Homo sapiens: one gene and its partners. The protein of the gene in region 2 interacts with the protein of the main gene of each other region in a biochemical or structural test. Each region holds a gene or a part of one and is shown on either strand. Other genes may lie near its edges. The genes, in order: HK1, TRPV4, CCDC102B, VCF2, DTNA, RAB29 and CYB5R2.

Region 1 (3,588 bases), on a different chromosome or scaffold from region 2:
GTGGGCCTTCCAGTTGGGATGCGCAGAGCTTGCTGGGATCCCTTTGGGTTAGGGGGTATCAGGGTGTGGTTTACGCTGGGGAAATGCCCTGCGGGAGCCCAGCCAGGCTGAAGGCTGTGCGTTCAGGAGCTGGGGATTGTCTAGGACAAGGTAATGAACAGTTTGTAGGGTTTGACTGGGATCCTTAGGGAGACAGAGAAGTGGCTTCACTTGGCCAGCTCACACCAGTGGCATGATGTGACCCTCACCCCACTCCTCCTGGTCCCCCTTAGGTGGGGGCTAGGCAGTGGGAGAGGAGGTGAGGGTGGGCGTGGGCTCACTCATAAGCCTGGTGAGCTGTAGCCAGGCCAGAGGCTCTGTTGGGTAAGTGGGGAGAGGATATTAAGAAAGGGGAGGAGCTGGGTGCAGTGGTTCACACCTGTAATCCAGCACTTTGGGAGGCCTAGGTGGGAGGACTGCTTCAGTCCAGGAGTTTGAGACCAGCCTAGGCAACATAGTGAGACCTTGTCTGTACAAAAAAATTTTGAAAATTAGCCAGGGATGGTGGTGAATGCCTGTAGTCCCAGCTACTCGGGAGGCTGAGGGAAGAGGATTGCTTGAGCCTGGGAGGTGGAGGTTGCAGTGAGCCCAGATCACGCCACTGTACTCCAGCCTGGGCAACAGAGTGAGACCCTATTTCAAAAAATAAAATAGGAAAGGAGGATAGCCACTCTCTTGTTCATCTGCTGAATCAGTTTGCTAAGACTTGGAAGGGCGGGAGCGGTTTGGGCCCTGGGCTTCATGGCAGGGAGGGGTAGGGAGTGGCCTCCCTCTGGTCAGGCATCTGACCCCCCATGCCAGAGAAGGACATGTGATTGCACTTGCTGTGTGATTGTGATCCACCGCATGTCTCACCTTATGAATAGGGTGACCATATTATTTATTTATTGTCTACACTAGGGTACTCTTGCCAGTCAAGAGTGCTAATAATTATTACTCTGGGACTGTAGGCAAACTAGGACCATCCCAGATAAATGAGGCCATAGTGTCACCCTACTTATAAGCAACCTCACCCGACTCAGTGTAGACATTACCTGCTTACCTCATGGCCGTGGCTTGGGGTGGAACCATCTGTCTTGCTCCATCCTCACCTCTGTCTCTCCCCCTTAATAGCTGTCCTTGCCATCAGCTGAGGCAGCACACAGGAGTGGTTTAGAGCTAGGCTTTGGAGCCACATACTCTTGGATTTAACCCTGGCACCGTCACTTAGAATCTGTGTGCAATTGCTTAATCCCTGCAAAATCTCATCTTCCTCATGAGGTGGCAGCCACTGGCAGGACTAGAAATTAGAGCTGTAAAATATGGGGCACCTAGTAGGTCCTCAAACTCCTTGGCTCAAGTGATCCTCCCACCTTGGCCTCCCAAAGTGCTGGCATGAGCCACCGCACTCCGCCCACCTAATAGGTCCCCAACCAAGGACAGTGACTACTTTTGAGAGCCCCTCACCACAAGCATCTTCAGCCTGGCCCTGCCCTTCATTTTGAGCCCAACTTACAAGCATGTAGATTCAGCCTTTGTTCAGATACTATCTTCACTGGAAGGCATTCCTGTCTTTGGGGGCCAGGCTGTTGATGGTGGGGCGCTGGGGGTCTCAGGGTTGCAGCTGGAGATGGGTGATATTCATTCCTGCATAGCCTCCTGAACCGATCCAGTGCTTGGCTGGCTTGCACCTGCCTTAATGATCCATGTCAGCCCCTAACATCCTCCTTGGTTTTGAGGTCCCCCTGGAGCCTCAAGCTCCGATGTGGGTGTGTGTGTTATTCATGTCCTAGCCTTCATAAGCCATACAGAGCAGTTGTGTTTGGATTCGCAGTTGGGCCTCCCTGCTGAAAACTGTGACAATGGGATTGACCGTGGGCCCACTTTCCTCCCAGCCATTCTCAACTGGCCACAGCTGCTTCTAAGCAGCCTGCCTCCCAACCATGTTCACCCTCCTTGTTGTTGGGTTCAGAGTCTCTTTGACTTCCGATGCTTATGTCCTGATAAACCCATCACAAAGTCGAAGAATCCTAAGTCGAATCATCACCAGTCAGGGGGCTGTCTGTGCTTTGGTGTTTTCGGGTAGGCCCAGCGTCTCTCATCTTCCTCCAACTACCTTCTGTTTTCTCGTCCTTTTTAGCTTCTCCAGAATCATGCACCAGACGGTGAAGGAACTGTCACCAAAATGTAACGTGTCCTTCCTCCTGTCTGAGGATGGCAGCGGCAAGGGGGCCGCCCTCATCACGGCCGTGGGCGTGCGGTTACGCACAGAGGCAAGCAGCTAAGAGTCCGGGATCCCCAGCCTACTGCCTCTCCAGCACTTCTCTCTTCAAGCGGCGACCCCCTACCCTCCCAGCGAGTTGCGCTGGGAGACGCTGGCGCCAGGGCCTGCCGGCGCGGGGAGGAAAGCAAAATCCAACTAATGGTATATATTGTAGGGTACAGAATAGAGCGTGTGCTGTTGATAATATCTCTCACCCGGATCCCTCCTCACTTGCCCTGCCACTTTGCATGGTTTGATTTTGACCTGGTCCCCCACGTGTGAAGTGTAGTGGCATCCATTTCTAATGTATGCATTCATCCAACAGAGTTATTTATTGGCTGGAGATGGAAAATCACACCACCTGACAGGCCTTCTGGGCCTCCAAAGCCCATCCTTGGGGTTCCCCCTCCCTGTGTGAAATGTATTATCACCAGCAGACACTGCCGGGCCTCCCTCCCGGGGGCACTGCCTGAAGGCGAGTGTGGGCATAGCATTAGCTGCTTCCTCCCCTCCTGGCACCCACTGTGGCCTGGCATCGCATCGTGGTGTGTCAATGCCACAAAATCGTGTGTCCGTGGAACCAGTCCTAGCCGCGTGTGACAGTCTTGCATTCTGTTTGTCTCGTGGGGGGAGGTGGACAGTCCTGCGGAAATGTGTCTTGTCTCCATTTGGATAAAAGGAACCAACCAACAAACAATGCCATCACTGGAATTTCCCACCGCTTTGTGAGCCGTGTCGTATGACCTAGTAAACTTTGTACCAATTCAAAGACCCGAGTGATGCTTAATGGCTGGGGACGGGGGGACAGGCAGAGGGGGGTGCAGTTTCTTGGGATGTGGCAAAGACCAAACACTGGGGAGTTTTGTGGCCTTCTGGGCGGAGGAGTTTTTTTTTTTGAGATGGAGTCTTGCCCTGTCACCCAGGCTGGAGTGCAGTGGCACAATCTCAGCTCAGTGCAACCTCTGCCTCCCGAGTTCAAGTGATTCTCCTGCCTCAGCCTCCTGAGTAGTTGAGACTACAGGCGTGCATCCCCACACCCAGCTAATTTTTGTATTTTTAGTAGAGAAGGGGTTTCACCATGTTGGCCAGGCTGGTCTCCAACTCCTGACCTCAAGTGATCTGCCTGCCTTGGCCTCCTAAAGTGCTGGGATTATAGAACAAGGCCACTTGGCTTCCAGGCTGCTTGGGTTCAGTGAGAGGACTGCAACACTGGTCCCCTCTCTGCCATCCCCACCCGGATCCTGCCCTTCATCTTCCTCTCTGCCAACCCCAAGACAAAGGATGAAATGTGCTCTGCCCCACCCCTC
Region 2 (2,957 bases):
AGAATCGCTTGAACCTGGTAGGTGGAGGTTGCAGTGAGCCGAGATTGCACTACTGCACTCCAGTCTGGCGGACAGAGCAAGACTCTGCCTTAAAACAAACAAACAAAAATGAATAGATAGGATAAAAAATTAAAGATAATATGTAAAAAAAAAAGATAATATATAAAAAAATGAGTGGATAAACAAAATGTGGGCTATGTGTACAGTGAAATATTATCTGGGCCAGGCGTGGTGACTGTAATACCAACACTTTGGGAAGCGAGGCAAGAGGATTGCTTGAGCCCAGGAGTTCAAGACCAACATAGTGAAACCCCATCTCTACAAAACGTTTTTAAAAAATTAGCCAGGTGTGGTGGCATATCCCTGTAATCCCAGCTACATGGGGGGCTGAAGTGGGCGGATCACTTGAGCCTGGGAGGTCAAGGTTGCAGTGAGCTGTGATCGTGCCACTGCACCCTAGCCTGGGCAATGGAGTGAGACCCTGTCTCAAAAGAAGGTTAAAAAAAATAATTTCTGCTTGGGGGAATGGAAGAATTTTGGAAATAGATAGCTGTGATGGTCACACAATGTGGATGTGCTTAATGCCACTGAATTGTATACTCAAAAATGATTAAGATGGCAAATTTTTTGTGTGTGTATACACACACACACACACACACACACACACGTCTTTTTTTTTTTTTTTTTGAGATGGAGTCTTGCTTTGTCCCCCAGGTTGGAGTGCAGTGGCGTGATCTCGGCTCACTGCAACTGCCTCCCAGGTTCAAGTGATTTTCCTGCCTCAGCCTCTCGGGTCACTGGGACTATAGGCACCCGCCACCATGCCCCGCTAATTTTTTTTTTAATTTTTTTTAATTTTTAGTAGAGGTGGGGTTTCACCATGTTGGCCAGGCTGGTCTCGAACTCCTGACCTCAAATGACCCACCCACCTCGGCCTCCCAAAGTGCTGGGATTGCAGGCATGAGCCACCACGCCCAGCCTTGTTATGTATATGTTACCATAATAAAAAAATAGGAGGGTGTGCTGGGGATGGTGGCATGGAGAGCGTCTCTGAGGGGTTCCCCATGACCCTCTGCTTGGGCCCTGCCAGGGTGGATGAGGTGAACTGGTCTCACTGGAACCAGAACTTGGGCATCATCAACGAGGACCCGGGCAAGAATGAGACCTACCAGTATTATGGCTTCTCGCATACCGTGGGCCGCCTCCGCAGGGGTGAGTGGAGGGGCGGGTGCGGAGGGGAGCCCCAGTCCATTCTCATCACGAATTTGCTTTGAGCAGTCCTGCTTCTTTCCGGGACTCAGTGTCCGTGTCTACAGAATGAGAGAGTGTGCCCCTGAGCTTCCTCTGCTGCTTGTGAATGCCTGGGGCACCTCACCTACGTGGCTTCATCCTGGCCCTCCCTACTGTTGACATAAGCTGGCCTGGGGAGGGAGGACGAGCTCCTCAGCCATCCCTGTGTGGAGAAAACCTTCCTGTTTGTCCAGTAAGCCATGAGCACGCGAGACGCAGCTGGAGAGGACACAGGCACTCAGGGCATTCGGCTCCAGGCTTGAATCCTGGTTCCTCCATTCTCTCCTGGGGAGGCACCTTGACCTCTCTTGAGCCCCAGTTTCCACCTCTGTAAAATGAGCATAGTCACATCCCCCCTTCAGAACACTGTGGAGTGCCCAGTACACAGTAGGCACTCAATATACGCACGCTCTCTCTCCACCAACCCCCACCCCTCCCTCTGATGTGCTCTCGGTGCAGATCGCTGGTCCTCGGTGGTACCCCGCGTGGTGGAACTGAACAAGAACTCGAACCCGGACGAGGTGGTGGTGCCTCTGGACAGCATGGGGAACCCCCGCTGCGATGGCCACCAGCAGGGTTACCCCCGCAAGTGGAGGACTGATGACGCCCCGCTCTAGGGACTGCAGCCCAGCCCCAGCTTCTCTGCCCACTCATTTCTAGTCCAGCCGCATTTCAGCAGTGCCTTCTGGGGTGTCCCCCCACACCCTGCTTTGGCCCCAGAGGCGAGGGACCAGTGGAGGTGCCAGGGAGGCCCCAGGACCCTGTGGTCCCCTGGCTCTGCCTCCCCACCCTGGGGTGGGGGCTCCCGGCCACCTGTCTTGCTCCTATGGAGTCACATAAGCCAACGCCAGAGCCCCTCCACCTCAGGCCCCAGCCCCTGCCTCTCCATTATTTATTTGCTCTGCTCTCAGGAAGCGACGTGACCCCTGCCCCAGCTGGAACCTGGCAGAGGCCTTAGGACCCCGTTCCAAGTGCACTGCCCGGCCAAGCCCCAGCCTCAGCCTGCGCCTGAGCTGCATGCGCCACCATTTTTGGCAGCGTGGCAGCTTTGCAAGGGGCTGGGGCCCTCGGCGTGGGGCCATGCCTTCTGTGTGTTCTGTAGTGTCTGGGATTTGCCGGTGCTCAATAAATGTTTATTCATTGACGGTGGAGATGGCAGGATGATGGCAGGGGTGGGAGGGATGGTAACAGGCATGAGACTGCAGCGAGGGAGATGGGAGAGCTAGGAAATGCCTGGGGGGAGCCAGGGGCAGGGGTGAGAGTGAGGGCAGAAGTCCTGACCGGGAGGCATTTAGAGTGTTGGTGGTTGGGGGCTGGACTGGGTGGTTGTGATGGTGGTGGTGGTGGCCTGAGAGGTGGCTGAGGTTGGTGTGGCTGTGGGGAAGGTGGGGGTGGAGGGAGGAGAGCAGAGTGATGCTGGTGGGGGTAATAATGCTGGCCAGGGAGAGTCATGTTGGCAGGGCGAGAGTGATGCTGGTGGGGGTGACAGTAGTGCTGGCTGGGGGATAATGATCCCCATGGAGACAGTACATTTGGGCAGGGGAGAGTAACGCTGGCCAGGGGTTGACAGTGCAGGTGCGGGGACTCTGGTGCTCATCAGGGGACAATTATACTGGGAGGGCTGTCCTGCTAGGCGGGAGGATGGTTGCCAGGCAGCACGGAGCAGG
Region 3 (2,662 bases), on a different chromosome or scaffold from region 2:
TGAATGTTCAGAGCATCACAGGGCTGGAGACAATATAAATACTCATGGAAAGGAGGGTAGGTATATATGTCATGGCATAGTAATGCAGTGCTATAATAGAGAGGACAAAGAGACCACAGATGAAACATTACTGTAGATGAGTCTTAGCTGTTGGATTTAAAAAGCAAGAATATTACATATAGCATGAAATACCTTTTTTAATTAAAACAATTAAAATGATACATTTTCAATAATATATATAAATATATTTCACATATATATATATATACACTTAGCATATGTATATGTGAATATGTATACATACACGTGTATTTTGTTCAAAGCCATGGGAATAAAAAACACAAGTTATAGTTCAGTGACTTATAGCTAGGGGAGGCAAGAGGGGAAATGGGAGAAGAGTGGCTACATAGAAAGGATTTTGTCAAATATTTCAGAGATCATTTTGAGGTTTATTACTGAATATGTACATTAACTCTATTAAAATAAATGAATATTTTCATTTATTCATGCACATATACAAAAGAAACTCACACATACACTACTGGTAAGTTACTGTCATACAAACATATACCTTGTTTTTAAAGAGTTACTTTATTTCAACTACTTTTTTTTTTCATTAAGAGCTTTTCTTATTAAGATGGAGATAGAAAGCTGTGTCTTATATAGAATGGATCCTCATGTTTTTCAATTTAAATTTTATTTTTAAATTGACAAGTAAAATTTGTACATATTTATGATATACAACATGATGTTTTTCTAAATGTGTACATTGTAGACTAGCTAATCAAGCTACTTAATATATGTACTATTTCAAATACTTATAGTTTTGTGGTGAGAATACTTACAATCTATTCTCTTAGCAATTTTTAAGAATATGATAAGATGTTATTTACTATAGCCACCATGATGTACTATAGAACACTTGAACCTAACTAAAGCATTTTCTACTTCGCTTTCAGCTTGATGATTCCCTGAATCAGATCCGTAAGCTCCAGAGGTCTCTGGATGAAGAGAAAGAAAGAAATGAAAACTTAGAGACTGAACTCAGGCACTTGCAAAACTGGTAATTTTTTCACAAAATATGCTGAATTAAAGATTAGGGCCTTAAAGACATTTCCATATCCTTTTCTTAAATATCAGTAAAATTGTTTTTATTAACTAGAAATATTAATGAAAAAAACGTAGACAATACACAAATTAATGGGCTTCTTCACTTCTTCTAATTTTTGCCTAACAGATACTGCATATTCTCAAAAAGACAATTTAAATGTCATTTAAAAACAACTTTAATTCTAAGATGTGTAAATATTTTGAAAGTCAAAAAGGGCTTTCAGAATACTTTTTACATAAAATCTGAAAGAGTTATAATATCGGTAAGAAAAAGTAAGTTGAAAACCATACAAGACGCTGGGTCATTAATAAGAAAACCATTGACTTTAAGTATAAAGTACTGGTTTGTTTAAATAATTGGTAAACTTTTATGTACGTGTTGTCTATGTGGTGGGGATGGCAGGTTGTATTAACAAAAATGAATCATTCTAGAGGTGTAACAATACATTTCTTATATAATTTTATAAGTCATTTCTAATCTTTGTATAAAACAGAAGTGAGCAGATGAATCAGAAAAAAGTGTTTTGTATTTTAAAGTAACAGATAACCAGTGATTGAATCTAAGACAGGCTGTAAGCATCGCTGAGAAACTAAAAGGACTTTTGACTTTTATCTGGATAGACATTTCTACAGTAAAATCATGGAAAGGCATCAGCATTGCAAAGTAGCATCTAGGTAGAAATCAGGCCAAAATTAAGCTGTGGTTTCCCTCTGAGTAGTGGGAATAGAGAAAATTAGGAAATTGTGGTTATGTGAATATTTCTTTAAAACTTTTATGTACATTATAGTTTATTGCTTCATATTTAAGTTTAGTTTTTAAGGTAAAATGTTATTTTGAACAAAAAGACACTTATAATTTTCCATACCTATTTTCAACTGAAGGCAACTTGTAAGATTTAACTCAGTCAATAACATACTGGTTTTACTCATCTCCCCCTCCATTGATTAGCCAAAAAAAAATGAAATCTTACTAATTCATTATTGAATAAAGACCACTTTTATCAGAGTCTCTCATTGTAAAAGCCTTTGTCATTCACTGAGTCTTCACTTTTTCCCTGTTTCTCTCCCAAACATGGGGGATTGTATGACTAATAGGAACGCAGCACTGAGGGGCAAAGAGGCCCGATCTTCAAGTGCGCACTGGTGTGTGTTTGCTAGGCTGTGTAGTAATGAAATCTATCTTGTCGCTGGGTACTCTTGCTGGGTTCTGATGCTTAAATGTGAACTTCCTTCTCTTTGCTTAACACTCCTCCTGTGAACTGGATCCATCTCAGTGCTTTCTGGTATGACCTCCTCTATCCCATCATATCCCCTGTCAACCAACTGACTGAGCAATTCATCCAGATGGAGCCTTGAGGATGGGCCGCAGGTCAAGGTCTCATCTCAGTCACAATCCCATATGAGAACCAAATACAGTTTGGAGAAGCTAAATATTAGGGTTCCCCTTGCCTGACCATGTTTCTCTGCTTTTCTGTGGCTGTGCCCCAAGTGGGTGTGGGGCAACTGGCAAGGCGTCTTCCTCTCAAGATCCTAAACGCAAGTGGAAAACAAA
Region 4 (3,552 bases), on a different chromosome or scaffold from region 2:
AGTGCCTTCAATTGTGTCCTGTTACAAAAGAAAACAGAGTCTTATCAATTTTTTGCAAATAACTATACTACCATAAACTACGTATACTTGCAAATAGTTTTCAAATTCTGGAAAAATCAGGTAGAAATATGCTTCAGATTTTTCTCACACTAACATAGTTAACCCAATATTAAAAGCTGCAAAATAGCTCAAAGAAAAATGGTTTTCTGGACTCAGAAACAAAAGTTAGAAAAAGAAACAATGTTACAAATTCAGAAACAAAAGTTTCTGAGTTTCAAACAATGTTTCGAAGTCACAAAAAGATTATTTCAGTTTTCCATTAGTTTCATCTGGGTAATTAACTCCTGTTCTGCTCAATGTTTATGAACACATTAGCTCTCTGTGGGAGTCTTGGAAGTTTTTCCTCTATTCTAGTATCACAGTCTCCAAAGTTATCAGAAGCCTGCATTCAAGAGTACCTGTCAGAGTCCTATAGCTGATTATAAAACCACCTTTTGAAAGTGATAAAAGTAAAACAACTATGAATGACAAGAGTCTTAGAACAGTCATAAAGACATAATTGACAAGGAAATTTGGTTACTTCTGTGGCTTACAACTATTTTACATAATCATTATTACTACTGATAACATATACCAGAGGTTCCCAATCCCTGGGCTGCAGACTGGTACTGGTCCACGGCCTCTTAGGAACCAGGCCGCACAGCAGGAGGTGAGTGGTGGGCAAGCGAGAAATACTGCCTGAGCTCTGCCTCCTGTCAGGTCAGCAGCAGCATTAGATTCTCATAGGAGCGCAAACTCTGTTGTAAACTGCACATGTGAGGGATCTAGGCTGTGTGTTCCTTATGAGAATCTAATACCTAAAGATCTGAGTGGAACAGTTTCATCCTGAAACCATCCCTTCCTTCCCCCATCTGTGGAAAAATTGTCTTCTACAAAACCGGTCCCAAGTGCCAAAAAGGTTGGGGACTGCTGACATGTACCAAGACATATCAGAATCACAGGAATTTCATACAATTCTGAAACACATACTAATAACACATTTATATAAATATAATCCAAGGGTTAAATGCCATTTTATATTTGACAATACTTCTTGTATGATTGTATTATATCAAATAACCCAAATATGTCTCTTTTGGGCGTCAGGGGACCTAATATTAAAAGATTAATGAGGACCAAATTTAGAATTTTATTTTGGAAAGTTTGTCAACTAGAAAAAGTTAAAAACACTTGATATCACAAAATAGGATCAAAAGTCATTGTAAAATAAGTCATTCATTTAGCTGAGTGATAGATTTCAAAGAAAGACAAAAGTTTTTATTTTTTTGAGACAGGAGACTTAATTTCCCAAACCATAAGCTTTCATAAAGACAACATGAGGCCCATTAAATCTGTCTTTTAAATTTTTCCAAACAAATTTATTAAGTTTTGGTCATCTTGACCATAAGATATAATTTCAATAAATTTTTTCATAACCTTTATTTTTCTTTAATTAAGAAATGGGTTAATGCGCCAAGAAAACCTTGTTACTCTGACATCGGGGCCCAGATGCTGGTCTTGCATCAGTGTGCCTTCAATATTAATAGTTAATTTATAGAGAAACTGAACTAATTTTATCTCTCAAAATTGGCCGTTACAATCTCACACACCCACCTCTTCCATGATAGTCCCTGGGCCTTGAGGAATTTAATAGTTTTAATTTCTGGCCTTGTGCCTTATGAACACAGTGTATTTTGATTGGTATCTTCTACTGGGTCTGAAGATAAGGCTTTAACTGCTGTCATTGTTTAAGATTTAGCAAGACTTGGTGTTCTTTTTATATCCAGGAGTCAACGCCCTGTAACTTAAAGGCACAAGGACTTTAAAAGCAAGAAAGTTACGTGGATATAGTAACCTTGATTTAAAAGAAAAATTTAACCTCAGTTTTTTTCTAAGCAAATTAAAACTTAATAACAATGGCATAGGAGTTATTTTGATAAAATGTAAAATTTGTTAGACCAGTTACCAAAAGGCAAGAAAAAAAAAAAAAAAAACCTCCTGCAGTACAATTGATATTCCCTATGGAAAGTCCATTTAGGTAAGCTGCAAATCAAAACTAATGAAAATGATACTTGAATTAGTTAGACATAGGCAGAGTGTTTCCTGGGTAATAAATGAAAATTTTCAGATTCATGGACAAATTTAAAGCCAAGAGCACAGAATGTTATGTTGGAAGAAAACATTTTCTTTAGACCTTTAAGATAAAACATTTTTAGCATCAGGCTATGACAAACAGTTAGAACCTGAGGAGAAAAATTACAGAAGCTGAAAATGAGTTGAAGGAGAGGGTTATTATCTCAGGCCTTTTCAAGGGGGAGAGAAAGCTGAAAATACAAGATAATAAAAGTTGAAAATTGGGTTAAACAAATTAAAATCCGTTGTAATTTTATTGAGAGTAAATCAATACCTTAAGAAAATTTTGTTGCTCTAACTGATTCTTTAGTGTATGTTTTTTAAAAAATCAAAACCCAATCTCTAAAAAGACTATTATAAATAATTTCCCTTTAATTATAGACAACTTGATACAAATCATTAATGAGATGCTTGGACTTCCTGTTTTATCCCAGACATCTTTCTTTCTTAAATAACCAGTTATTTTAGGACAGAAATTTACCATACAAGATTTTTTCTCATATAAAATTATTTTCCTTTTAACGTTTCTTGCCAAAAATACCCCTTTATATTTATAAAGAGGTAAATATATAGTATGTAAAGAAAGAGACATTTCTTTACATTGCTCTTATTTACTGGTTTCTTTCACCTTGTTTCATAAATAACTTTTAAGTAACCTTTGAATTAGACAAAAATTATTTTCTTTTAAATAAGAAAATATTTTTTAGAAAAATATTTTCCTATAATTTTTTAAAAATTAGAAATCATCCAGATGTTTAATGAGTATTTATTATTTAACTTAATATAACTTTAGATTTTAAATTATATGACAAGTTTATTTACAGGCATTTTTTCTATTACATTTACCTAATTAATTTTTTAAATGGTTTACTCAGATGAAAGCTGTGAATGTCATCATTTAGTTATTTCTCTGTTAACTATTTTTATAGCCTATAAATTTAGGTTTTTCTAAGAACCTGAAGTATAAAGACTTCTGATATAGAATGATATATCATTATTGTTAATGGCTGATGAGATTCTGTTGTATGAATGCATGCACTATAATTTAAATACTTCTTTGTTTTTAAACATTTAGTTATTTCTGATTTTCAGCTAATAAAAATATTGATAGCATAAAAATGTCTTAATGAGCATTTCTATCTGTACACAATTGAGTTTAAAAACTTTTAAAATGAAACAAATTAAAGGTAGATTTTTTTCTTAATAATTATTCTAAAGAAATCCCTTCTAGCCTATGAATTTTTAATGTACACAGCATAGCATCACCCTAGTGTTGCACTACAGTGTAAAATCAATATGTTGTCATTGGAGAAGAAAATTTGATTCATCAGAAATGATTTCTAGTTCTTACCTTATTTTTCAGGCAGTACTGTAACAAAA
Region 5 (3,552 bases), on a different chromosome or scaffold from region 2:
CAAACACATATACATGGGTAAAGGGATTCACAGACTTTTCTACTCTTTAACATTATTATTTTAATAATTTCATAAATTTGCATATTTATATTAACTCAGCTAGTTAGTAGCATGATTCAGGCATTCCAATTCTTAAGCCAAGACTCTTTTTCTACACCATGTTGCCTATACATGTTCCATCTAAAGAGTTGGGAAGTCAACAGTTAGACCAGCATATAGCCATGTCTATGACTTCTTGCAGCTTTTTTTCTTTCTTTCTTTTAATTGAGATGGAGTTTCACTCTTGTTGCCCAGGCCGGAGTACAATGGTGTGATCTCGGCTCACTGCAACCTCCGCCTCCTGGGTTCAAGCGATTCTCTTGCCTCAGCCTCACAAGTAGCTGGGATTACAGGCGCCTGCCACCACGCCCAGCTAATTTTTTGTATTTTTAGGACAGATGGGGTTTCACTACGTTGGCCAGGCTGGTCTCCAACTCCTGATCTCAGGCGATCCACCCGCCTCGGCCTCCCAAAGTGTTGGGATAACAGGTGTGAGCCACGGTGCCCGGCCGACTTCTTACAGCTTTATAGCTTCTAGAGAGGAAATACGAGCTCATGTGTTTTCTATATTTCTTGGATTTTCTTTTTCAGACTGCTATTGTCTGAAACAACGAAAAACTATGTAAATACGTTAGACTATTTATTTTGTTAGGACATATTCCTAGTAGTAGAACTGTAGGGCCCAAGGATATGCAATTTTTAAAGACTTTGCTACACATTGCCAGCTTGATCAACTCCCCACCTGCACCCAGTGTACACTGCTATATGATAGCAGTGTATATGTGTTCCCATTTTCCAGACTTTTCCTAAACCAGACATTATCTCCCCCTTCCTCCTTTTGCTTTCCCCTTTAAAAAATAGTTGCTAATTATTAAAATGACATGTGTTTAATTTGTAGATATTTTTAAAATTAAAAGGGAAGTGCTTTTTCTTACAGATTTATGAGACCTCATTACATAACATGGATATTCACTTTTTCTCTTTCATATATGTTGCAAATGTTGTTTCTAATTTGCCATTTATCTTTTTAATTTTGTATATAACATATTCTAGAAGGAGTAAGTTTTCATATTACCATTCCTTTATGATTTTTGTCTTTGAGGTCATCCTTTTCTATCATAAGTTCTATATTTTCTTTCACTACTTTCATAGATCCATATTTTATACTGGAATTGCCAATCCATCCAGTATTTTCTTTCATGTCAGGGATGTGTAGAGGTAAGTAATTTTTCTGAGTAAATGTTCCACCAAACAAATCAAAATTAACAGGTTTCAGATATAAAATATTGTTTATTTAAAATAAATAATTAAAAAATTAAAAACAATTAAAATATTGAAATGGTGTCTAGTGAACATTTCATAACATGTGTGTTTGAGAGTGGGGAATTATTATAGTAATACCACTCTAAAATATCCAGCTAATAATACCATGAAGTGAAGACCAGTTAATTGCCCCTTTATATACTAAAAATATAACTAATTGTTCTTTCCTAGAAATGAGTTTGCATTTTTCCTGTCAGATACTGACCCACACATTGTACAATTCTTGATAAGTTTAATCATTTTTTTTTCTATTTTTTATTATTATACTTTAAGTTTTAGGGTACATGTGCACATTGTGCAGGTTAGTTACATATGTATACATGTGCCATGCTGGTGTGCTGCACCCACTAACTCGTCATCTAGCATTAGGTATATCTCCCAATGCTATCCCTCCCCCCTCCCCCCATCCCACAACAGTCCCCAGAGTGTGATATTCCCCTTCCTGTGTCCATGTGATCTCATTGTTCAATTCCCACCTATGAGTGAGAATATGCGGTGTTTGGTTTTTTGTTCTTGCGATAGTTTACTGAGAGTGATGATTTCCAGTTTCATCCATGTCCCTACAAAGGACATGAACTCATTATTTTTTATGGCTGCATAGTATTCCATGGTGTGTATGTGCCACATTTTCTTAATCCAGTCTATCATTGTTGGACGTTTGGCTTGGTTCCAAGTCTTTGCTATCGTGAATAATGCCACAATAAACATACGTGTGCATGTGTCTTTATAGCAGCATGATTTATGGGTGGCTGGGTCAAATGGTATTTCTAGTTCTAGATCCCTGAGGAATCGCCACACTGACTTCCACAATGGTTGAACTAGTTTACAGTCCCACCAACAGTGTAAAAGTGTTCCTATTTCTCCACATCCTCTCCAGCACCTGTTGTTTCCTGACTTTTTAATGATTGCCATTCTAACTGGTGTGAGATGGTATCTCATTGTGGTTTTGATTTGCATTTCTCTGATGGCCAGTGATGGTGAGCATTTTTTCATGTGTTTTTTGGCTGCATAAATGTCTTCTTTTGAGAAGTGTCTGTTCATGTCCTTTGCCCACTTTTTGATGGGGTTGTTTGTTTTTTTTCTTGTAAATTTGTTTGAGTTCATTGTAGATTCTGGATATTAGCCCTTTGTCAGATGAGTAGGTTGCGAAAATTTTCTCCCATTTTGTAGGTTGCCTGTTCACTCTGATGGTAGTTTCTTTTGCTGTGGAGAAGCTCTTTAGTTTAATTAGATCCCATTTGTCAATTTTGTCTTTTGTTGCCATTGCTTTTGGTGTTTTAGACATGAAGTCCTTGCCCATGCCTATGTCCTGAATGGCAATGCCTAGGTTTTCTTCTAGGGTTTTTATGGTGTTAGGTCTAACGTTTAAGTCTTTAATCCATCTTGAATTGATTTTTGTATAAGGTGTAAGGAAGGGATCCAGTTTCAGCTTTCTACATATGGCTAGCCAGTTTTCCCAGCACCATTTATTAAATAGGGAATCCTTTCCCCATTGCTTGTTTTTCTCAGGTTTGTCAAAGATCAGCATTCTTATACACCAACAACAGACAGAGAGCCAAATCATGAGTGAACTCCCATTCACAATTGCTTCAAAGAGAATAAAATACCTAGGAATCCAACTTACAAGGGATGTGAAGGACCTCTTCAAGGAGAACTACAAACCACTGCTCAAGGAAATAAAAGAGGATACAAACATTCCATGCTCATGGGTAGGAAGAATCAATATCGTGGAAATGGCCATACTGCCCAAGGTAATTTACAGATTCAATGCCATCCCCATCAAGCTACCAATGCCTTTCTTCACAGAATTGGAAAAAACTACTTTAAAGTTCATATGGAACCAAAAAAGAGCCCGCATCGCCAAGTCAATCCTAAGCCAAAAGAACAAAGCTGGAGGCATCACACTACCTGACTTCAAACTATACTACAAGGCTACAGTAACCAAAACAGCATGGTACTGGTACCAAAACAGAGATATAGATCAATGGAACAGAACAGAGCCCTCAGAAATAACGCTGCATATCTAAGTTTAATCATTTTTGATGACAGCCTCTATCGCTTATTGAACAAAACCAAGATATTTTATAATAAAGTCTGATAATAACATACCAAGCACCTCTATTCCTAGTGACTTATAAATGCTATTAACATAATTAATTAAATTTGAGGGTTAATTTCTGAGAATCATAC
Region 6 (2,551 bases), on a different chromosome or scaffold from region 2:
ATTTTTCCATTTGATATTCATTGATATCATGACTTCCAATTGAGAGGAAAATGAGATCAAATGTCATTTCCCAAATTTCTTGTAGGCCGTTGTTTCAGATTCTTTCTGTCTTGGAATGTAAACATCTGATTCTGGAATGCAGAAGGAGGGGGTCTGGGCATCTGTGGATTTTTGGCTACTAGAAGTGTCCCAGAAGTCACTGTATTTTTGAAACTTCTAACGTCATAATTAAGTTTCTCTTGTCTTGGCATCAAGAATAGTCAAGTTTTTTGGCCGGGCATGGTGGCTCATGCCTGTAATCCCAGCACTTGGGGAGGCCAAGGCAGGCGGATCACATGAGGCCAGGAATTCGAGACCAACCTGGTCAGCATGGCAAAACCCCGTCTCTACTAAAAGTACAAAAATTAGCCAGGCGTGATGGCACGTGTCTGTAATCCCAGCTACTCTGGAGACTGAGGTGGGAGAATCGCTTGAGACTGGGAGGCAGAGGTTGCAGTGAACCGAGATCATGCCACCGCACTTCAGCCTGGGTGACAGAGAAGGACTCCGTCTCAAAAAAAAAAGAAAAAAGAATAGTCATTTTTAAACTACCTATCTCATGCAATGAAAGCATTTTCTTCCACAAAGAGCTTAATCCTCATGATAGGATTGCCTAGTGTCTCCCATTTGCAGGTTTCTGGGTTGATGTCTTAATGCATAATACTGCAAGTGACATCAGCTGGCTGTGATGCTTCGAAATAGGTCTGCTCCTCACAGCTTTGGGAATCTGAATGGAAGAAGAAAAGAGAGAAGTTAACAACCTCCACTGGGGCAACTTTGTGAACACGTAGGCACTTAGTCATAGGAAACATATTATGTGCAGGTCCTAGCCTGGGGGAGGAAAGTAGATAGACAGAAAATCATTAGGTAATTTAAGTACTAAATTGGGCAGGGCTTTTTAGTATCAAATCACTACTAGACCATTTAATTTGTTAAATTATCTCTAGGATGGTGATTTATAACCTACCCAAAGTTATCGATATTCTTACTAAACTCTGAGGCCTGAAGTTCTGTGATAGACCTTAAATAAGTGTCCTAAGTCAGTGGTTCCCAAATCTGGCTGGTCGGGAATACCTGGGAAGTTTGTTAAAATTTTTTAAAAATGTTTTAAGATTTTTGGGTCCTGAGCCAGCCGTGGTGGCTCACACCTGTAATCCCAGCACTTTGGGAGGCTGAGGCAGGTGGATCGCCTGAGGTCAGGAGTTCAAGATCAACCTGGCCAACATACTGAAACCCCGTCTCTACTAAAAATAAGAAAAATTAGCTGGGCGTGGTGGCGGGCACCTGTAATCCCAGCTACTTGGGAGACTGAGGCAGGAGAATCGCTTGAACCTGGGAGTTAGAGGTTGCAGTGAGCTGAGATCACACCATTGCGCTTCAGCCTGGGCAACAAGAGTGAAACTCCATCTCCAAAAAAAAAAAACAAAAAGAAAAAGATTTTTGGGTCCCGACCTCAAACCTACTGAATCAGAATTTCTAGGGATGAAGCCTAGGAATGTGTTGTTGTTTTCAGAGCTTCCCTGGTGATTGTGATAAGCCTGGTTTGGAAACCATTGCTGGAGAACTTTGTAAAGATACAGAGACCCAGACCTTTTGTATTTACATTTAAATACAAATACAAATCCTGGGTTTCTATATATTCTGTTAGCTTTTCAGGTGATTCTGCTACACAGACGTTGAAAACCACTGCCCTAAGAAAGAGATCAGAGGCCACATATCAGAGAGAAAAGGGACCAAACCTTCGGTGGTTTGTTGTGTGTCGTTTTAATGCCAATTATTTTAACTTGCACAGTCTTCTGAAACCTTGTATTAATAGTTCTCTTTTGTATTACCATTTTCAGGTAGGGTTTTGATCACTATGATTCTGAAGATAATAGTGAAATAGTGAATTTCATTGATATGAAGAGATAATTGATTTTCATTCATTGGTTTGAACACCTGCAAAATCACAAATAAATGAGAACTAAGTCTTGTATTCATGGTGGTTATTGGCCTTTAATGTGAGTTTGTCAAAGTGCTGTTTTATACTGATAGCTCAAGAGGATTGCGGAAATGGAGACTTTATTTTTTAAATACCTTTTTCTAAATTTTCAATTCAAGGGGTACGTGTGCAAGTTTGTTACATGGATATATTGTGTGATGCTAAAGCTTGGGTTTCTGCTTAGCCTGTCTCCCAAGTAGTGAACATAGCACCCAGTCGGCACTTTTTCAACGCTTACTCCCTCTCTCCCCACTTTTGGGAGTCTCCAGTGTCTGTTGTTCCCATCTTTATGTGTGTGCCCAATGTTTACCTCCCACTTACAAGTGAGAAATGTGGTTAAATACCTTCTTTTAAAATGAAGGTAAATATTATTCTGTTTACCTGTTAACTTACTAATACCAATTGCTTAGATCCATCTGCCTAGTACCAATTCAGTACTTGATGGAACATGCCAAATACTACTTGGAAACGTGACCTTTTTGAAAAACTGAATGTGCTTGCTTTTCCCATTTGCTGACTCAGGATTTACCT
Region 7 (4,275 bases), on a different chromosome or scaffold from region 2:
TTCAATAAACCAGGTGTGGCCAGAGACCTATGGATCATGACTACATCCCACTGTCAGATGACACACTGGGCAGCTACGACCTGTTGGATCCAAAATGTGAGACTCAAATTACTAAGGCAATTAGTGGCAGGGACAGGAGTGCAATCAAGAGATACTAAGAGCTAGAGGCAAGAGAAAGTTTTGTAACCCTAACCCTTGACTAACTTCCTGTATGTATGTAGTCAGTTTACTCCCTCAGTTTCTACTCGCTCAGAAACTGAGTGGACTACATACGGGAAATTAGTCGAGACAAGGAAGATGGAACAGAGAGATGGATAGAAACCAAGACCTAAGGTGCAGGGAGGAGGAGGAGGCAGGAGGAGAAAAAAGCAGGCAGAGTAGGCACTAGAGGGGCTGGTCCCTGAAGCTGATTCAAGGGGATGAGCCAAGTCTTTGAGGTGCCAACACTCTGGGCTCAGAACAGGCTCAATGACTCTGGTCATGGTCCCTCTGGGCACCAGGGATAGCCAGGAGTAAGTGAGACACCTAGCTTCCTTCTGAGAACCTGAAACTGGAAACCTGGAAAGGCTCTTTCATATGCAGCCACCTAGGCCTGGCCTGAGGGTGTCCCCAGGGCAAATGGGGCTCCCTGGCTGGTCCTTCAAGCCCCATCTCTAACTTGCTTCACTTCCACTGGGCTGGGACGAAGCAGCGAACTCTGAGGCCTCATATTAGACTCTCCCAGAGGCCTCTACATTACCTTGTCCCACTAACTTTGCACGGCCTAGGCCAAGGCTGAGGAGATAGTGGGTCAAGGCAGTTTCTAAGCAATTCTCTATCTCAAAGTTTTTCATTCTTTTAGGCTTCCTGCCAACAGGACCTGCCTGACAGGCCGAGCAGGGAGCTGAGAGACGGCACGCACAACACTGAGCTCTCGTGCATAGAGATGGAGTGAGGGAACAGCAAGGAGGCTCAGGGGCCCAGCGAGCTGGCTAGAGTGTAATCTCACCACCTGATAGAGCTGAGGTCAAGGTTTTGGCCTGTGCATATAAGACAAATAGGCCACGGAGTAGGATCCACCAGGCAGGCAAGCAGCACTAGCAGATTATACAAAGCTGCTCTGAATCCCTGATTCTAGCAGTTTTCTACTGCACTAAGACTGACTCAGCTATCTAGTGGTGTTACAGATTAGAAATGGGATAACTCAACTCTAGGACTCCTAGGGCTGGAATCTGCAACTCGTAGGGCTGGTCCCTCCTTATGTGGGTCTGAGGCCCCTGCAGAGAATCTAAGTGACCTTGGGGGCAGGGCACACCTGACTCATTCCTGCCTACCCGCACATTCTGGGCCTTTCCCCGACCACTGGTTCCTCCCATCCCTCCCAGGTGCACAATACTTTGTAGTTTCTGAATTTTCATATCCATCAGTCACTCTACTTTCACAACAACCCAAGTGAGGTAGACAGGCAGGCCTGGGAAATCCCATTTCATAGACTGAGGCTCAGAGAGATTGAAGGACTTCCCTTAAGTTCCCCAGCAAGGAGCCTTCCATGAGATTTTAGGCCTTTTGGCTCTAGGTTCAGTTCTTTTCAATGCTCACTGAGGTACCACTCTCGTGTCAGCCCAATTGGAATAATGAAGAAAAGAAATTTTCTGTCCCACATCCATCCCCCTATCTATCTCCCTGAGCTCACAGGCTCAGGAGGAGCAAGAGGGCATCTTCCACACCTCAGGACGTGGGAAACCTGTGTTTCTGTTAAGAGAGGAGGGCCTAGCCCCCAGAGGCCCCAGTCCTGGTGATGACCCAAGCCCGGCTCACCTACAGGAAGCCCTAAGACATGGTCCGGCGAAGGCAGTCCAAAGCGGAACCTCCGGGTGTTGTGGCTGATTTTCTGATAAAACAAAACATAGGCAGGTTCTGTCAGCTTTCTAGAAGCCTTGCTGGGCAGCTGAGATGCCTGGGAAAGGAGGTCCGTTTGGCGCTATTCCAGCACACACACACACACACACAGGGCGGCGGGGAGTGAACTGGAGGCCATGAGATGACTGTCTGGATGCCCTGCCATCCCAGCCATCATCCACTTACTGCCTTCCACCCACAGGGCTGACCCATTACCTCTTTCTCAATCAAGGGCAGCGGGTACTTGGCTTCAGGGTCCTGTAAGGTGATTGGCTCTCTCCTCCTGGAGTTCATGCTCTTCAGGACCAACACGAGCACAGTGACCCCAGTGACGGTGATGGTCAGGAGCAGGGACGGGTCCTGGCAGACACAATGTGAACAGAGCACCTCAGGTCTTGCCCGCCCTGGACAGGGCAGCTCTCAGGCGCAGAACACCCTCCCCACACCAAAGGCACAGGAGCTGAGCTCTGCCTGCAGGAAATAGGCAAAGAGAACAGTAGTGACACAGAAGGCGGCTGGGAGAGCCTGTCGTGGACCAGAGGGTAGGGAGGGGTCAGCTGCAGGTCACACAGGAAGGATGTTTCAGGCCCCTGGAGCAGGCAGCACACATGGCCTGGGGTGCTCAGGTCACTAGGCCCCTCCTGGCTACAGCCAAAGGTTCATACACTGGAAGTCCCTTCCTTGAGGTGAAGGGGGAGGACATCACCCCTAACACACAATCCGGAATGAGGGGCCCAGTCCCTAAAGACAGAACTAGGGTGCGTAGCTCTAAGAGGTGCCCCGTGACTTAGGGCCTGGGGACTCCCCAACAGTCTCCTGGACAGGGCGAAGGGGGCCTGGGCACTCAACTGCCAGAGACTCGGGAGCCTCCCCGCATCTGTCCCTACCCTACAAGGCCGCCCTGCTCCTCTCCCAACTCAAGCCCGACAGGGAAAGTTGCCTCTCCTCCCGCCGGGTCACTGGAGTCTCAGCCTTCCGGAATCCGAGCCGGCCCGCCCCACTCCCCGCCCTTCGCGGTCCCGCCCACGACCTCTCCCCACGCCTCCCGCTCCGGCCCCCAACCTCCCGGTCGGACGTTCGTTCCCGGCTCTAGCCGGCCTCCGCGCCTCTGGCCTCTTTCCTTCCGGCCGTCCCGACGGAGATATTTCTTCAATACTCCATAAATACACCCCGCCGCGGAACCCACCCGGAGTGAGACGCCCAACACGTCGTCGAACTGGGGTTGGCCGGGGGCCGCTCCCCGCCGCGGGCCCGCAGACTCGTGGCGTCGCCCCGCAGCTCCGCCTGGCCGACGGGGAACCGGCCGAGACCCGGACACGCACGCCCGGGAGGACAAAAGCGCGGGCGGACCCCGCAGGCTGGGACCCCGGCGGCTGGCCCGCTCCCCGAGAAGGGCCGTGGTCGGGGGGCTCTCACTCACGAGCCGCTGGCTCTGGGTCAGCCCTGCCCCCAGGGCAGCGCTCCATCATGAGGCTGGCGGGGCGCTGAGCCGTGGCGTCCTCGCTCCTGCGCTGCCCCTCTGCATCCTGGCCCCTTCCCTGCACACGCAGAGCTGCCACACTGAGCGCCCCTCAGCTTACTTAAGCTCGGCAAGGCTGGAGAAGGCCGTCTGGGTGACCGGGCGGAGGGGGATGCTGGGGAAGGAAGAATTCAGGCAGCTGCAAAGAGCGCGCGAATATATTCATTCGACATACCTCATGGGCGCCTACCCTGGGCCTGGTCCGGGGCGGGTGTTTGCGGGGTGGGGCCGAAGCAGGGGCGTCGCCGAGTTGAAGACGTGTACTCCGAGCGCTCCTGCGTTCATTCATTCGCTGGGTGGAGAGAGGAAGGACAAGAGCCCCGCGCCGATCGGAGGGGAGCAGAATAGTAGGCACAGTTAGAGGGTCTTCACGGTGCGTTTCGGAACCTTGGCTGCCCGGCTCGCCCTTGATTACAGGCAAAGGCAAATTCTTGCCTCAGGACCTGTGTGAAACAGAGAAGCCCAGAAGCAGATCCCCACCTGTTTGACTCTGCTAGGGCTGCTGTAACAAAGTGCCGCAGACTGAGCGGCTTAAACAACAAAAATTTATTGTCTCGCAGGTCTGGGGGCTGGAAGTCCAAAATCAAGGTGTGGGCAGAGTGGGTTCCTTCTGAGGGCTGTGAGGGAAGGATCTGTTCCATGCCTCTCCTAGGTTTGTAGGAGAGGGGCTAGGAGAAGGGGCATCTTCTTCCTATGTCTCCACATTTTCATCCCTCTGTGTGTGTCCCTGTGTCCAAATTTCCCCTTTTATGAAGACACCAGTCATATTCAATTAGGGTCCATCCTAATGACCTTGTTTTAACTTGATTACCTATGTAAAGGCTCTACCTTCAAATAAGGTCATATCCTTAGGTACTGGGGCTTAGGGCTTCAACATA

The links.
Region 1: the proteins of TRPV4 (region 2) and HK1 interact in a test that uses a peptide from one of them, tested with the Homo sapiens proteins (one large-scale study listed by BioGRID).
Region 3: the proteins of TRPV4 (region 2) and CCDC102B interact in a test that uses a peptide from one of them, tested with the Homo sapiens proteins (one large-scale study listed by BioGRID).
Region 4: the proteins of TRPV4 (region 2) and VCF2 interact in a test that uses a peptide from one of them, tested with the Homo sapiens proteins (one large-scale study listed by BioGRID).
Region 5: the proteins of TRPV4 (region 2) and DTNA interact in a test that uses a peptide from one of them, tested with the Homo sapiens proteins (one large-scale study listed by BioGRID).
Region 6: the proteins of TRPV4 (region 2) and RAB29 interact in a test that uses a peptide from one of them, tested with the Homo sapiens proteins (one large-scale study listed by BioGRID).
Region 7: the proteins of TRPV4 (region 2) and CYB5R2 interact in a test that uses a peptide from one of them, tested with the Homo sapiens proteins (one large-scale study listed by BioGRID).

Annotation. Positions count from the first base shown.
Region 1 is NC_000010.11:69,398,833-69,402,420, forward strand, and holds the end of HK1 (hexokinase-1), read left to right. Parts: intron 1-2,158; coding exon 2,159-2,303; 3' UTR 2,304-3,050; downstream 3,051-3,588. UniProt on the Homo sapiens protein: Catalyzes the phosphorylation of various hexoses, such as D-glucose, D-glucosamine, D-fructose, D-mannose and 2-deoxy-D-glucose, to hexose 6-phosphate (D-glucose 6-phosphate, D-glucosamine 6-phosphate, D-fructose 6-phosphate, D-mannose 6-phosphate and 2-deoxy-D-glucose 6-phosphate, respectively).
Region 2 is NC_000012.12:109,782,571-109,785,527, reverse strand, and holds the end of TRPV4 (transient receptor potential cation channel subfamily V member 4), read left to right. Parts: intron 1-1,090; coding exon 1,091-1,212; intron 1,213-1,749; coding exon 1,750-1,907; 3' UTR 1,908-2,439; downstream 2,440-2,957. UniProt on the Homo sapiens protein: Non-selective calcium permeant cation channel involved in osmotic sensitivity and mechanosensitivity. Activation by exposure to hypotonicity within the physiological range exhibits an outward rectification.
Region 3 is NC_000018.10:69,053,071-69,055,732, forward strand, and holds the end of CCDC102B (coiled-coil domain-containing protein 102B), read left to right. Parts: intron 1-959; coding exon 960-1,067; 3' UTR 1,068-2,119; downstream 2,120-2,662. UniProt on the Homo sapiens protein: During interphase, forms fibers at the proximal ends of centrioles to maintain centrosome cohesion. During mitosis, dissociates from the centrosome following phosphorylation to allow centrosome separation. Contributes to CROCC/rootletin filament formation.
Region 4 is NC_000023.11:55,147,656-55,151,207, reverse strand, and holds part of VCF2 (protein VCF2), read left to right. Parts: intron 1-3,552.
Region 5 is NC_000018.10:34,713,278-34,716,829, reverse strand, and holds part of DTNA (dystrobrevin alpha), read right to left. Parts: intron 1-3,552. UniProt on the Homo sapiens protein: May be involved in the formation and stability of synapses as well as being involved in the clustering of nicotinic acetylcholine receptors.
Region 6 is NC_000001.11:205,767,449-205,769,999, reverse strand, and holds the end of RAB29 (ras-related protein Rab-7L1), read left to right. Parts: 3' UTR 1-2,014; downstream 2,015-2,551. UniProt on the Homo sapiens protein: The small GTPases Rab are key regulators in vesicle trafficking. Essential for maintaining the integrity of the endosome-trans-Golgi network structure.
Region 7 is NC_000011.10:7,670,654-7,674,928, forward strand, and holds the start of CYB5R2 (NADH-cytochrome b5 reductase 2), read right to left. Parts: upstream 2,848-4,275; 5' UTR 2,766-2,847; exon of another isoform or gene 2,728-2,765; intron 2,239-2,727; 5' UTR 2,173-2,238; coding exon 2,095-2,172; intron 1,871-2,094; coding exon 1,798-1,870; intron 1-1,797. UniProt on the Homo sapiens protein: NADH-cytochrome b5 reductases are involved in desaturation and elongation of fatty acids, cholesterol biosynthesis, drug metabolism, and, in erythrocyte, methemoglobin reduction.